3 separate regions of the Homo sapiens genome follow, and regions 1 and 2 are each reported to be linked to region 3. Evidence: microRNA targets listed by miRTarBase, many of them from high-throughput screens and not tested one by one. Region 3 holds a microRNA gene; each other region holds the end of a gene's coding sequence.
What was found. The annotated mature microRNA hsa-miR-5572 reads GUUGGGGUGCAGGGGUCUGCU and lies in region 3 at 2,855-2,875, shown strand. An mRNA with a match to its seed (bases 2 to 7 or 8) in the 3' UTR can be bound and repressed. Matches are read on the target gene's strand: a 7mer-m8 pairs with bases 2 to 8, a 7mer-A1 pairs with bases 2 to 7 and ends in A, and an 8mer does both.

Region 1: the mRNA of CSTF2 is a reported target of hsa-miR-5572. The part of its 3' UTR that is shown has no 7-base or 8-base seed match.
Region 2: the mRNA of SNW1 is a reported target of hsa-miR-5572. Seed matches in the 3' UTR shown: 7mer-m8 at 4,104-4,110.

Annotation. Positions count from the first base shown.
Region 1 is chrX:100,837,429-100,842,492 of GRCh38, forward strand. CSTF2 (cleavage stimulation factor subunit 2) reads left to right here. Exons shown (of 14, transcript NM_001325.3): 12 at 1-21; 13 at 811-936; 14 at 3,286-4,092. The coding sequence ends at 933. Among named protein-coding and RNA genes, the nearest start is that of CSTF2, 20 kb to the left of the region's middle.
Region 2 is chr14:77,713,643-77,718,706 of GRCh38, forward strand. It overlaps SNW1 (SNW domain containing 1), which reads right to left. Exons shown (of 14, transcript NM_012245.3): 13 at 4,725-4,888; 14 at 3,957-4,644. The coding sequence ends at 4,446. SLIRP (SRA stem-loop interacting RNA binding protein) reads left to right here. Exons shown (of 4, transcript NM_031210.6): 3 at 2,130-2,237; 4 at 3,854-3,956. The coding sequence ends at 3,919. Among named protein-coding and RNA genes, the nearest start is that of SLIRP, 8.1 kb to the left of the region's middle.
Region 3 is chr15:80,578,325-80,583,395 of GRCh38, forward strand. MIR5572 (microRNA 5572) reads left to right here and starts at 2,779; the gene lies at 2,779-2,915. It overlaps ARNT2 (aryl hydrocarbon receptor nuclear translocator 2), which reads left to right. Exons shown (of 19, transcript NM_014862.4): 16 at 2,087-2,225; 17 at 2,915-3,080. ARNT2-AS1 (ARNT2 antisense RNA 1) reads right to left here. Exons shown (of 2, transcript XR_007064732.1): 2 at 1,706-4,437.

The sequences.
Region 1 (5,064 bases), not on the chromosome of region 3:
ACTCCACAGGATCATGAGAAGGTAAGCAACACTGTCTGACTGCCTCCTTATGCACAATTCTAGCCTTTTTGATTCCTCTTTTCACAGTTACCATGTGACGATCCTGGGTCTTCAAAGTCCCTTTGGAGGTGATGTTTATTCTAACTTAGAACTCTTTTATGATCTTGTTACCTGAAAATTTGTGAGTCTGGTCCTGAAGTTCCTAATGGATGTGAAGTTCTTAAGTGGATGTAAATGGCAGCTTATTTTATATTTCACACTCATCTGCCAATAGCAGGTTTTTCTTGTTCAGGCCAGATTGACCTGAAAATCCACACCCTTTTTCCTTCCCTTTCTACTTTATCCCTAAAAACAATAGTAGATTCCCCATGATTATATCTTTCTGTTTTTATATTTGACCATTGTGGGGAGCTTATGTCTGATGGAAAGGCTAAAATTTGTGAAAAAGAGAGACTTTCAAAACAGGATTAAAACTTGAAGGATTTCCAGGGCTCACAGATACCATCTTAGTCTCCAGGAACTTTGAGTTCATGAAGTTGTCTGTTTTGAATCGTCTAATCTTAGGTATTTTAATTTATACTTGTTCTTTTCATTGTACCTTTTCTCACCAGTTTTTTTTTATTTTTTATTTTTTTTGGAGGGGGGCTGTTGGTTTTTTTCTGTGTGAAATGTTCTTCCTTTTTCCATTTTGCTTCATATCCCACTACAGTAGCTTTTTGGACAGAAGCTGGTGGTGGGTTTTTTGTTTTGTTTTGTATTTTTTAGCTGCCATCATTAAAACTCACTACCTTTTTTTTTTCCTCTGCACAGGCTGCTTTGATTATGCAGGTTCTACAACTGACTGCAGACCAGATTGCCATGTTGCCTCCTGAGCAAAGGCAGAGTATCCTGATTTTAAAGGAACAAATACAGAAATCCACTGGAGCACCTTGATAGGTGAGCAAACTTAATCCCCATCTGAGTAGGACTAGCTCCTTGTCTATTCTGGGTATATACTTTTAACCTTAACCAACAAGATTGTTCTCTCAGCGGCCCTCAATCCACTCAGCTAGACTCTTCTTTACCCTTCAGTAGGTCAGCTCCTGTAGGGATAGAGTAAGGCTATACAATGTTTGTTCAGTTGTTGAATTGCTTATAATCTTTCCTAATGACAAAGGTAATGTATGATCAGTTTAACAAAAGTAATCATATACAGAAATGTAGAAGGTGAAAGGTAAAAAGCCCTGTTTCCTCAATCTCATTCCCCAGACAAAACCTCTAAATATAGTTTGGTGTGTATCCTTCTACAATCAATTGTATTATTTTATTCCAAACTGTCCTGTCAAAATGGAAAAATACAAAGCATTTCAATAAAATGTGTAAATATTTTGTTTCTTGTATTTATTTTATAGGGAATATTTTGATGTTGAACTATAGTAGCACATAATTTAAGGTAGTAAATGTCCGTCATCACCATCAGTTTCTATATATTTTGGAGATCGCTGTACCCTGCTACCCTTATTTTTCTTGCTCATCATTTAGGCAGAAAGAATCCAGGGGCCAAGCACAGTGGCTGAGCCCTGTAATCTCAGCTTTGGCAGGCTGAGGTGGAAGGATTACTTGAGACCAGGAGTTCAAGACCAGCCTAAGCAACATAGTGAGACCCCATCTTTACAAAAATTTTTTAAAAAATTAGCCAGGCATGGTGAGATGCGCCTATAGTTCCAGCTACTTGTGAGGCCGAGGTGGGAGGACTGGTTGAGTCCAGGAGGTCAGGGCTGCAGTAAGCCATGATTATGCCACTGCACTCTAGCCTGGGTCACAGAGTGAGACTCTGTGTCAAAAAAAAAAAAAAAAAAGGATCCAGGTAACCTGCTTCATAAATAATCATGTGACAACTTGATTACACATACATGTATCAGTGTTTCTTTTTTAAAAAAAATTTCCCCAGCATTTTGTATTTTATAAACAGTTCTTTTTTCTAAAAACAGTTTAAAATTCATGTTGCCCCACTATCAGGTAGGACAGCACAATTTAAATTTCTACTTTTTACCCCATCCATATTATAATTCCTATTCTTATGTTATATAATAGTGAACTCATTTAACTATTAATAATTACCACTCTTACAAAATATATCATTTTAATCCATACTTGTGATGTCTTTAAACATTTAAACTGCGACTATGCATCATATATGTATTTAGACCTTAAATGAATTAATGAGAAGCTATCATAGATAGAAGGCTCAGTAGACTTTTGGTACCTTAACGTTTTATTCCACAAACCCCACATATTCTTTTTTTTTAGTAAAAGTATAGACTACCTATTACATTCAGAGGAATAAATAAAAATTATTTCTTTTACTAATTTACTTAAGCCAGAGAAGGCATTCCCTACAATGTGAGAAAATTACTCCTTACTGTTTCTGGATAGTAGAGGTAGAAATGTTTCTGAAATTTCTTTCATTATAGTTTTGCTTATAGGATGTTTAATTTAAGGCCTTGCATATTAACCACAAGGCAAAGTTTTTGTCTATTTTTTTACCTTTTATTTTTAAATAATCATAGACTCAAGGAAAGTTGGAAAAATAGTACAAGGAGTCTCATGTACCCTTCACCCAGTGTAGTGCAAAACCAAGAAATTGACATTGGCACATTACTGTTAACTTGACTGCAAACTCAGTTTTCACCATTTTAAAAAAACTATCATGATTTGTGTATATGTATGTGTGGTTCTATGCAATTTTATGTGGGCAAGATTTTATTGTGTGTCTACTGGTGTTTGTGCATACCATGGCTAAAGTGTTGGGTTTTCCTCCATCCTATACCTAGCTAGTTGTGATCCATCTCTGCCATCATGGACAGGCTTCTATACTGTTGTCATTAGAGATGAATGGTTCTCAAACAAGGGCAGTTTTGCCCCCTAGGTGACATTGTCTTGAGACGTTTTTGGTCATCACAACTTTAGGGAGTATGGCATGCTACTGGCATTCAGTGGGTAGAGGCCAGAGATACTGCTAAACATCCCATAATGCACAGGATGGTCCCCCTCACCCACTTCCCAATAGCAACTAGTACTCCAGCCCAAAATGTCAGTAGTGCTGAGGTTGAGAAACCCTGCTGCAAGGGCTGATTGCTTTGAGGAGTCAGGAGGCAGGAGACAGATACTTTGCAAATCTGTCCTGGTGATTTGATTATATGCCTGTCCTCCCTCCCCTAGCCTTTTTATTTTTTTTCCTGAAGTTTTTCCGGAAGAGAGCTTTGTCTTCACTTCTAATGGCTTTGTCCTAACTTCTTCTTACAGGTTTTCAAAAATACCTGGCAAGAAATCTGGAAATTCTATAATTTTGTTGAAATATTGAAAAAAGATGACCTGCATCCTAACCCTTGAATGACTCAAATCAGTGCCAGGTGGAGGACTCCCATCACCTTCTCTCAGAACAAAATCACTTCATTTTATTGTCTTAGTTTGTATATTTTCTGTGACTTGAAATAAACTTTGAACACAATTTTAGTACACTGCAAATTGATACACATGACCTTTTTGCTTTTAAAAAGCTTAACACTAAGGGTGAAACCTTAGATGTGTTTTCTACCCTTACTGCAGTATTGTACTTTAACATATTGCCATAGTTTTGTTTTTAAGTTAACCACTTATTCTTCTTGATGATATTTGAGAATTTCTCAGAAGCAATGTTTTCTGGAACTTGGTTTTTGTTTAGTTTGCTTCCAGTAAGAATTATTATAAGGCTTTGCCCTCTGAAAATATTCTAGCACTTCGGAGTCTTCTAGGAGAAAATATCACATGCTTAGAGCTATAAAATGGTCAGAAGGCTAACAGAGCAAAGAGCCTAGCACAGCTGTGTGTTTAGTTTAGAAAAATCCAAATATCAAAATGCATTTGTTTCAATAGCAGGTCTGAACATGTATAATTCAGAGTTAAGACAAAAATTGTTTTAGCACTGGTTTGAGTGTGTCAGCAACACAAGAGACTGTTGACATTTACTTGTGTGTTCTTAAACTTATCAGTCTAGGCAGTCAACTTTGAAAGTTTAAAAAGCCACTGATTTTTCACATGCTCAAGATGAAATAAAAACAGAAATCAAATGAACAAAATACATTTCATCCTATCTTCCAGGCAGTCCCTAACCTGCAGCCCTACCCTGTAACTACGTTTATTCTGGGAACTTACAACACAGAAAACCCTAAAACTTGTACATTCTTCTCATTTTAAGTGGACCAAATGTAGAGCACAGTCAGATTGCTCATTAGGTCTGCTCCTGCCTGCTTCCTTGCGGATAGGTATGAACATAATTAGTGCCATTAGCTCTAATCTATGGGTCTTATTGCCTAGTATTTCTCTCTCTCGCCGCGCCGCCGCCTCCTCCTCTCCCCCCACCCCAACCCCATCTCTCTCGTAGTGGCATTAAGGAGGAACATGGTTTCTCTCTATCAGGCCAACCTCAAGAGGTTAAGAGTTGCCTTAATAATCAGTAAAGTTCTACTGGAACTACTTTTGAGCCAATTTATATTCTTGGAATTCTATCCCCTGGGTTAGGATTATGGTCAGGTGAATTAAAAGCCTGGCATAGGCTTAGAGAATGTAATAGCATATTGCTTACATGTCAAGCAAAAGAATGCAAAGATAATCAACTTTTTGAGTGACAATGAAATTGAGGGATTTTCTACTCATATAAACATTTATAAGAAATTTGTTGATTAAGGTATTTCATATTACAACTTTGCAAGAAAAACTTGCTCAAAGCAGGTGAGGAGCTTTCTGTGTATCCTGCTCATCCCCAGTTCAACTTGGATGTTGGCTATGCATAGGATTTATTATATTCATTACCATGAATATAATCACGAATTTATGCCTACTCCCATAAATATTCAAGCCTTGGGATATTGATTTTGGCAGCCATCATATCTTGAAGTGAGTGTGTCAATATATTTAGACATGGAGACCAAGAGTGATGCCTTTCTCATTAGGAACTCGTTGTAAGTTTCAAGATTCCAAATCAAGGTCATTGAAGATGAAGTTGTCATTTGGTCAGTAGTTGTCTAATAAGAATCATGTCTTCAA
Region 2 (5,064 bases), not on the chromosome of region 3:
AATATTCCAAAGCAGCATTATTTAATGTCAAGTAAGAAGAAGAAACTTAAATGTTCATCACTGGGATTGATTAGATATTAAGTCACTGATGCAATGGAATTTTATATAGTTGAATAGAAAAGTTGGGCACATGTATTATGGACATGAAATATTTTCTGTAAGTTTGAAAACTTCAATTTTTTCAAGAGCATTTAAATAAAAAGTTCCTTGCAAAAAAATGAATAGATTTTTATTGGTCCATAAATAAAATAGGACCTGCAAAGAATAGATCTTAGATTTAAATAAAAGGCGGCTTTGATGTTGGTAAAACAAAATAAAATATGACAAAAAAAATATTTTTTTGTTCCATTCATTGTACTCTAGTTGGAAATCCTGGTTCCTTTTTTGAGACAGGTTCTCTCTCTCACTCAGGCTGGAGTGCAGTGGCACAATCAAGTTCACTGCAGGCTTGAACTCCTGGGTTCAAGGGATCCTTCTGCCTCTGCCTCCTGAGTAGCTGGGATTAGTCGTGTGCCACCACACCTGACTAATTTTTTGTACTCTTTGTAGAAATGGGGCTTCACCATATTGCCCAGGCTGGTCTCGAGCTCCCGCACTCAAGCAGTCTACTCACCTCAGCTCCCAAAGTGCTGTGATTACAGGCATGAGCCACCACACCTGGACTGAGTTATTTTTTTTGAGACAGCCTTGCTCTGTCGCCCAGGCTGGAGTGCAGAGGCGTGATCTCAGCTCACTGCAATCGCTGCCTCCTGGGTTCAAGTGATCCCCCTTCCTCAGTCACCCAGATAGCTGGGACTACAGGCATGGGCCACCACACCCAGCTAATTTTTGTATTTTTAGTAGAGATGGAGTTTCACTATGTTGGCCAGGCTGGTCCCAAACTCCTGACCTCAAGCCATCCATCCACCTCAGCCTCCCAAAGTGCTGGGATTGAGCCACTGCACCTGGCCTATGTTTTAATATAAACAAATTTCTTAATGCCTTTGACTGTGGAAGTGGTCACATGACAATAAAGGAATGCTTTAGAAATTGTTGTATCTACAATGAATGGATCATTGGGACATCACCAGAAACTTTCCGTCTTCTAGGTTAATCCTTATAAAGTTATCCTTGAAGTAGAGGAGCAATTGTAAGATTTTGTTTTTTTTGGCAAAGCACAGCATGACTTGAATGAGACTAATGAGGACCAGTTTGTCATCTACAGGGACTAGACATCTTAATATCTGTTTTCTGTCGAAGGGCTGGAGGGGCAGGGTACATCCAAGCACTCTAGAATCTGTTTTCCGTATGCGATGTATAGGTTGAAACTTTTGCACAAGGGAAAATAGCAAAATTGTTTAAATTAACCAGAAGTCTGTAACTAGGTTGAGTAAGGGCTAAATATTATCTTTTCTTGTTTTTCATTAGGAACACGTGATGATAGTCGTGGTGGTGGTGAGGGTGACTGGATTCAGAAATGAGTGCAACAAGGCTTTGAGGCTTAATTTTCTAGTTTCTAGAAACGAAGCTTAGAACAAGAGTACTGATCAAAATTTCCCTTAGCTATTACTGTTAGTATGGTTTGCATCTAGAATGACACAGAAAGCTCATGACCCGTATCTTCTCTAATGGCAGCAAGGAAAACAGGAAGCTTAACAACACAGGGATTTAGCCTTGGGTAATCAGGAAGGGTGTAAAGCAAGGTTACTGACACTTATAAATGTCTGTGATCCGATTTTTGGCTGGGCATGGTGGCTTATGCCTGTAATTTCACTACTTTGGGAGGCCCAGATGGGAAGATTGCTTGAGCCCAGGAGTTTGAGACCGGCCTGGGTAAGATGGGAAGACCCCATCTCTGCAAAAAATATAAAAAATGAGGCAGACATGGTGGTATGTACCTGTGATCCCAGCTACTGAAGAGGCTGAGGTGGGAGGATTGCTTGAACCCAGGAAGTTGAGGCTGCAGTGAGTTGCGTTCATACCACTGCACCCCAGCCTGGGTGACAGAGCAAGACCCTGCCTAAAAATAAAATAAAATTAAATTAAAAAGTCCGATTTTTGGCAGATGAAAAAGTTGGTAGTTTGATTTGGAACTCATGGAAACTTTCTGAAGTTCATGATTAATCTTTTCCTATATTTTGAATTTTTAGGACAAGGAGACTGGCTTTCACAGAGGTTTGGGTTGGGTTCAGTTTTCTTCAGAAGAAGGACTTCGGAATGCACTACAACAGGAAAATCATATTATAGATGGAGTAAAGGTAAATTTATTTCTATGCCAGATACATACATGATATACATGTAGGTACTATTTAATTATGTATCAATTAAATAGATCATAAATGTGGAATGATGGGGACTTGGAGAGATTTGTAACTGAAGCTGCCTTAATGCTTGTTAAGAATGGTGGGGTGGAGGCTGGGCACGGTGGCTCACGCCTGTAATCCCAGCACTTTGGGAGGCCGAGGCGGGCGGATCACAAGGTCAGGAGATCGAGACCATCCTGGCTAACACGGTGAAACCCCGTCTCTACTAAAAATACAAAAAATTAGCCTGGCAAGGTGGCGGGCGCCTGTAGTCCCAGCTACTCGGGAGGCTGAGGCAGGAGAATGGCGTGAACCCCAGGGGGTGGAGCCTGCAGTGAGCCGAGATTGCGCCACTGCACTCCAGCCTGGGCGATAGCGAGACTCCATCTCAAACAAACAAACAAACAAAACAACAACAAAAAAAGAATGGTGCGGTGGTAGGCCAGGCGCAGTGGTTCATGCCTATAATCCCAGCACTTTGGGAGGCCGAGGCGGGGGGGATCACCAGAGGTCAGGAGTTTGAGACCAGCCTGACCAACATGGAGAAACCCCATCTCTACTAAAAATACAAAAAAAATTAGATGGGCGTGGTGGCACATGCCTGTAGTCCCAGCTACTCAGGAGACTGAGGCAGGAGAACCCAAGAGACAGAGGTTGCAGTGAACTAAAATCGCGCCATTGCACTCCAGCCTGGGCAACAAGAGCAAAACTCCATCTCAAAAAAAAAAAAAAAAAAAAAATGGGGGGTGGTAGAGTGCCCAGTTTTAAAAGGTCCAGGAAAGTACAAGATGACCCTTTAATGGGTAGCAAGATATGTAACACAGTGGACATAACAGTCTACTTTTCTTTTTTCTTTTTGAGAGTCTTGCTCTTGTTGCCCAGGCTAGAGTGCAATGGTGCAATCTTGGATCACTGCAACCTCCGCCTCCTGGGTTCAAGCGATTCTCCTGCCTCAACCTCCCGAGTAGCTGGGATTACAGGCATGCGCCACCACGCACTGCTAATTTTTTTTGTATTTTTAGTAGAGATTGGGTTTCATCATGTTGGTCAGGCTGGTCTCAAACTCCTGACCTCAGGCAATCCGCCCACCTCGGCCTCCCAAAGTGCTGGGATTACAGGCGTGAGCCACAGCGCCTGGCCAGCAGTCTGCTTTTCAGGTCAGGCAAGCTGGGGCTGAAATCTTGGCTTACCCACCATGTGATCCTGGGCCAAACTGATTTACTATTTTATTTTAAATTTTAGTTTTAATGAGACAGGGCCTTGCTATGTTGCAGGGTGGTGTTGAACTCCTGGCCTCAAGCAATCCTCTTGCCTCAGCTTGCCAAAATGCTGGCATTACAGGCCTGAGCCACTGCCCCTGGTCTGATTTACAATTTTTAATTGAGGGTTAGGGAGTCATAATACCAACAAAGATGGTAAAAGGAATTTGAGGAGAAAACGAAAGAACAAGGGACAAATAAAAACTGCCTGGGTTATTCATTATTCATACTGACTCCCTAATAAAGTGATTTTCAGTTTGAATGTTTTTGCAGACATTGCCTTTCCTCCCTTACAGTGCTTATTTTTTTAAGGTCCAGGTTCACACTAGAAGGCCAAAACTTCCGCAAACATCTGATGATGAAAAGAAAGATTTTTGAGACTGCAGCCTATTAATAAAGTTAACATAACTGAGAATTTTGTCTAAATGTTTTTATTTGAAACAAATAGTTGCACCAAGCAAGAGGTTACTTTGCCCACTCCAAATTAAAACAGAGCACAATAGGGGCAAAATTTATTTGGCAGGACAGTTCCAGTATGTGAACATCTTCCTCCTCACTGTGGTTGGGGTAACTTTACTCATATGCAGCTGTTCTTACACAAAACATTAACCCCAAACTACTAGTGTCACATAAAAGTAAGTGGTCTTGACTTTGTATGTGGGGCAGCATGTTCTATAAATGCTGAAAGGTGGGAGAAGCACAAACACAACCCACTCTTTAAAAAAAACTAAATAATTCAAAGTAGAATTTTCTATCCCCCCCATTTCTCCAGTAATAAAAAGTAGTGCTGGGATCTGGCACCCAGATTTGGTTTTTATCCTGACCATTTACAAAGTGTTCCCCCATATGACTTGCATCATTAGGGTTATGGGTAAGAGTTCATTCACTTTGGAGAGACCTGTGCCTATTCCTTCCTCCTCTTCTTGCCTTCATGCTCGTGTTCCTTGGGGCGGCTGCTATCTGAGGGTCTTTTAGAGCCACCATGCTGTTTGGCTTCTTCCAAAAACTTGTCCAAACCAAAAGGATCTTCCTCAAACTGCACTGGTCCTTCTCGGCCTCTCTGTCTACGGTCTGAACCAGAAAACTCCTTGTCGGGAACAAATCTAAGGAAAAGGAGAAAAAACTATGAACTACTTTGCTTTCACCAGTGTAAACACTGAAATTGAGTTGTATGGCTTGGCACCTGTTGGTCTTTATTCTGGCTTCTAGGTCATCACCATACATGTCCTTGTCCAGATTTTTACTGGGCCTATAAATACTCTGGGCCATATCTTTACCACCTCTCCAGGCTTGATCATAAACATTATAAATTTCATCTTCTCCACCTGCAAATCCACTGTCCATACCCTGTGGAAAAATGGATGACATTAAATAAAAGTGTAAACATTGTTTATCAAAAGCTGAATCATAACATGTTTACAGTAAACCCTTGCTAATGTACAGCTCACATTTTCAACAATCTGAACTGCAAATTAAAAAGTCTTCATTAAAAAACTGGTAGCACATGAACTTCATAACAACTT
Region 3 (5,071 bases):
AAGGGCCTGAGGGGTGTGCTGAGTGAAGCCTTGGAGGAGGTGTTGTTGGAGGAGGCCTCACTAATGGGAGAAACAGAGGATGACCACGTTGTTCTATGACAACGGCCTCACACAGGCTCTGCACCTCACACTGGACTGTCTGCCCTGAGCTGTGTCTGCAGCAGCAGCCGTGGGGACCATGCTGAGGAGGAGGACACCATCACTGATGACCTTTGGGAGAAGAGTGAAGCTGCAGACAGGGCTCAGGGCAGACAGTCCAGCGTGAGGTGCAGAGCCTGGGTAACGCTGTTGTCATAGAAACAAAAATGTAGGGTGCACAGGGCAGTGATGAGTGATGGGGAAGGAAAAGCAGGTTTGGGGCAGCTGGCAGTGTGGGGAAGGAATCCAAGGAACGTCCGAACACCTGTGCAGAGCCTGGCATAGAAAAGGCACTTGCTGAGTACTAGTCTGTAAAATGAATGAATAAATGACTGAGTTAATTAAAGGATGCCTGTTAGGGCTAAAGCCTGTGGAATGGGCAGAATTTCCTGTATATCCGAAGGATCTGAGCTGGCTTGGGATGGGGTAGGCTGTGGGATGAAGGACTCTGGGGCCCAATACAGCCATAGGGAATCCTGGGCCGCTTGCAGAATGGTGTTGCTGGCACCTGAAGTGCATCCTCACCCACAGTCCTCCCTCTCTGGTCCCGCCAGTTTTGGCCCCTGCCTGTCCACACTAAGGCAGGCAGCTGTAGCCCAGAGGCCCCCAGGGAGGGCTGTGCACAAGGGCTGGCGCTTTGCCCCAAGAAGCCCATCCCTTTCTGCCAAGGCGCCTTTCCTAGGACCGTCTACGCTGTAGCGGCCCTCATCAGTCAGTGTTTTGGGGAGGACACCAAGGGCTGGGGGCTGTGGAGAGGGTCCTACTAGACAATAGTGACCAGAAAATGTCCTCTGAAGCAATACTTTCATCAGGAAGGAGAATGGGAAAGGAGCCCTTATGTTAAATGAGGAATTGATTGTATGAAGACAGAAATGATGTCCCCTTTATATAAGCCACTGAACTTGTTTTACAATGATCAGCTCAAGAATGTCTCTGACATTCTTGGTTTCTCCCTATTTTAAAAGGGATCAGATAGCATAGGAAACTTATTAGAATACAATAGTAAAATTTTACCCAATCTCTGCTGATCTCTGGCTTGCCTTTTTTTTAACACGGAGCTGAAAATCTACCAAAGCCTTCTGTGATGAGCCCCATTCTGCCCTACTTGACTGATTCATGGGCACCCAGCGCACTGCCCTGCATGCTGAGCTAGTCCCAGGGAGGCAGGAGGAGGGGCCTGAAACAAAGTAAAAGTCTGCCCCCAGCCTTTTAGTCTTTGATGAGCTTCTCATGTAATCGACATAGCCTGGAAAATCTCCTGGAAGAAGCGCCTGGTGGTACAGACAGTGCCTGCCGAGGAGCTAAGCAGGGTCAGAGATTTAGCCTGCAAAGGCCATGCAGAGAGCACGGCACACAGCAGGGGCCTAATAAAGACAAACTGAGTTAAGTCGAAGGTGAACTGAAGGTGGGAGGGGTAAACTCTGGGTAGCAGGACTAGGCCCCATCCAGCAGGTTTTCATTGAGAAGCTTTTCTTTCCGTTTAAAACTGACAGCCTGCAACCTATTTCCTGAATCCTTAAGCCTCATAGGTGCCCCAAAGGAACAAATTAACCAGAGCACAAAAGAGTGAGTGAACAGTGGGACTGATTTTTATTCTAAGAAGCTTCTCTCTTTCTGGGAACCAAATCATCTGCTGAGAGCAGAGGATGTACAGGCATAGGATAGGGGCTGAAGAGTGCGTGGGAGACCCTGGGGAGAACGAGGAGAGGAAGTACCAGACTACTAGACATGGCAGGACTACTCAGCAGTGTAGAGGAAGCCCTGAAGGGAGAGGAGGACGGCCAAGGGGCTTTGAGGCTCACGATGTGTGAGTCATTTTCTCTAGTGACGTGCTGCATGGAGAGAGAGCCAGGAAGATGGCCCAGGGCAGATTGTGTGGTTGGCTGGGCACGTAGACTCATGCAAACCAGGTGTGTCCTCGGGATAAATGCATTTTCCTCTTTTCTAGCTCTTCAGTGGTTCATGTGCCTGGAGTGAATGATATTCAGTCCTCTTCTTCCACGGGCCAGAACATGTCCCAAATCTCCCGGCAGCTAAACCAGAGTCAGGTGGCATGGACAGGGAGTCGTCCGCCCTTTCCGGGACAGGTATGGGCATCTGTGAGGGCATCTCCCCTGGGTGACCAGAGAGGCAGAGCACTCTGGGAAGTGTTTTCTTTGGATTGCGGTTCTGAGGATGGGTCGGCTCCTAGCTGGAACCAACCACCCTAACAGCAGCTGGCTACTCAGGAGCACCATCCACCCTCAGGGCTCTCGGAGAGCCAGGTGCCCAGCCTGCAACTTCAGCAGCCTTTTCTCCTTACAGCCATGCCCTGAGGCAGCTGGCAGGGAAAGGTTGGGCAGGTTGAGACACCTCATCAAGAATGAGCCCCTCACTACTCTGGACCTCTGGCTGCCCCTGCGCCAGGAGGGCATGAAACCACCAACCCTTGTGACATCCCCAGACCCTCATAGTCACTGTGAGGGTGGGTGTTGATTGGGCTGAGGGAGTTCTAGGTGTTCATAATGCCAAGGCCTTGGTAACCAGACTCCAGAGGGCCCGGATCCTCGTAGCCCTGGGGAGTAACTTCAACCAGACGTGCCCCAAAGATCCTGCAGTTCCTGGGCCCTCACACACCGGGCTGATCCCAGGCCTGTGCCTAGCCAGACAAGAGGGTCATGGGGAGTCACTGTCAACCCAGAGCAGGCACTGCCCCTGCGACCAGCCTGGGGCATCGGTTGGGGTGCAGGGGTCTGCTGGTGATGCTTTCCATCTCTTTGCTTTGTCCTGATTGTAGCAAATCCCATCTCAGTCCAGCAAGACTCAGTCATCTCCCTTTGGGATTGGAACGAGCCACACCTACCCGGCAGACCCCTCTTCCTACAGCCCCCTCTCCAGCCCAGCTACCTCCTCGCCAAGTGGGAATGCCTACTCCAGTCTTGCCAACAGGACTCCAGGGTTCGGTAGGTGGGGAATGAGGGAGTGAGATTCTGGGAAAGCCAGCACAAATGCTTTCTGAACAGCCTGAATTCAGGAGGCTGAGCTCCAAGCTCCCAGCTACCAAAACAAGGTCTGGAGGTTTCCAAGCACCTCCTCTCTCTCTGGCTATGAGGAGGCCTATGGTGTTCCTAAGAGACTGGATGCTTAGGCCTTGGCTTTGTGATTTGACTTTATCATTTTCAAGGCATTGGGATGATGTTGCTGTGCTGTGAGGTGATCTGAATACCATTTTAACCCATTATGGCCCTGGCAAGGATTTTCAGGTCCCCCAAGTCAAAAACCTTATAGTCTTGTTTCAAGAAACTAGAGAATAGCTATAGAGACAATCAATTGCATAAATAACACTGCAAAGTTTTCTGTCTCTTTTAAATATTAAAAACACCTATCTTACTTTGTTAACAAAACCTCAGGCCATAGAGGGTTAAGGAACCGCTGTGTCCTGTGCATTTCTCAGGATCCTGGGCCTTGCCCACTCTCCGTGTGTGTAAGGAACCTCCTCAGCATGTCTCCCAGGGCTAGGGTTCCACTCCACGTCAGGACAAGCTCATAAGAGACCCGTGGTCCTGGTAAGAAGTCCAAGCTGGTGCCTGCTTTCTCACAGTGAGGTCACTGGGTGACACCCAGCAGTGCGGCTCATAGAGCTTTTCTCTACAGAATTGATTCCTCAGATGAGCGTGAATCTGAGCCCAAACATCTGAATTTCCACGTGGCAAGTTAAAAGCTTCCATTAGAACTGCTTGTCTGTCAGCCTTATGAACAATTCTGTGCAGGCAGGGCGCGGTGACTCACATCTGTAATCCCAGCACTTTGAAAGGTCAAGGTGGCAGATCACCGGAGCCCAGGAGTTCAAGACTAGCCTGGGCAACATTGCAAAACCCTGTCTCTACAAAAAAAAAAAAAAAAAATTAGCCAGGTGTTGTGGTGCATGCCTGTAATTCCAGCTACTCAGGAGGCTAAGGTGGGAGGATCATTTGATCCCAGGAGGTTGAGGCTGCAGTGAGCCATGATCACACCACTGCACTCCAGCCTGGGTGACACAGTGAGACCCTGTCTGAAAAAACAAAAGAAAGAAAAATGCTGTGCAGAGCCCCTAGCACACAATGGGGAGTTGTCATCTGCTGCCCAGCCCTCCCCACCTCCTCCACTAACAGCAGCACGTCCGTCCCACTCAGCCCGAGGTCTTGGGGCACAGCATTTCCTGAGGCCATGCTTGTCCCTCCAGCCTTAGTCCCATTTACTTGCAGTGTGTCTCCTCTTCGTCTGTTAAGTATTCTCGCCACGTGGTTCACTGGAACCCAGTTTAGAAGCACAGCACCCTGTCTGAGGAAGGAGAAACCCCATAGCAGTTGCTCTCAAGTCAGCCAGGCACTCAGCACGGTTACCACCTTGAGCCCAGAATCCTGTTTCTCAGGATAGCATCCACCTTCCTGCAGTCACACGTGAGATCCTTCTCCACATCTGGTTCCCCACCCGGGTGTGGAGAGACCCCTTCACCTCCTCCTGAAGGTGGGCCTCATAGACTCAAGGCCTCCTGGGTACCTAGTCCTTCCCGGAAGCCCAGGGACCATCTGGCACCGATCTACTCAAAAAAACCTTCAGTGCCAGGCCCCGAATCAGCCCTGGAAGACAGGAGACCTGGTCCCCACCCAGAGAAGGACACAGTCCAGAGACTGGGTCAGGGGAGACAGACAGAGGTAAAGGGAGGCAGGCAGGACAGTCTGCAGGTGCGGCAGCCATGGTCTGCGTGGGGGCCCTTGTGGCTGCAGGCCAGGACAGTCGTTATGTCTGATGGGGTCAAGAGAGGCTTCGGAGCAGAGCTAACACGCAACCGTGGCAAGGTCTTGGAGCATCCCACTGTGGCCGTGACGAGACAGGTGGGCAGGCCACTTCCCTGCCCCAACCATCCAGTGCCTTTAGCTCCATGCCTCTGTCTAGTCTCCACTAAACAAATGCC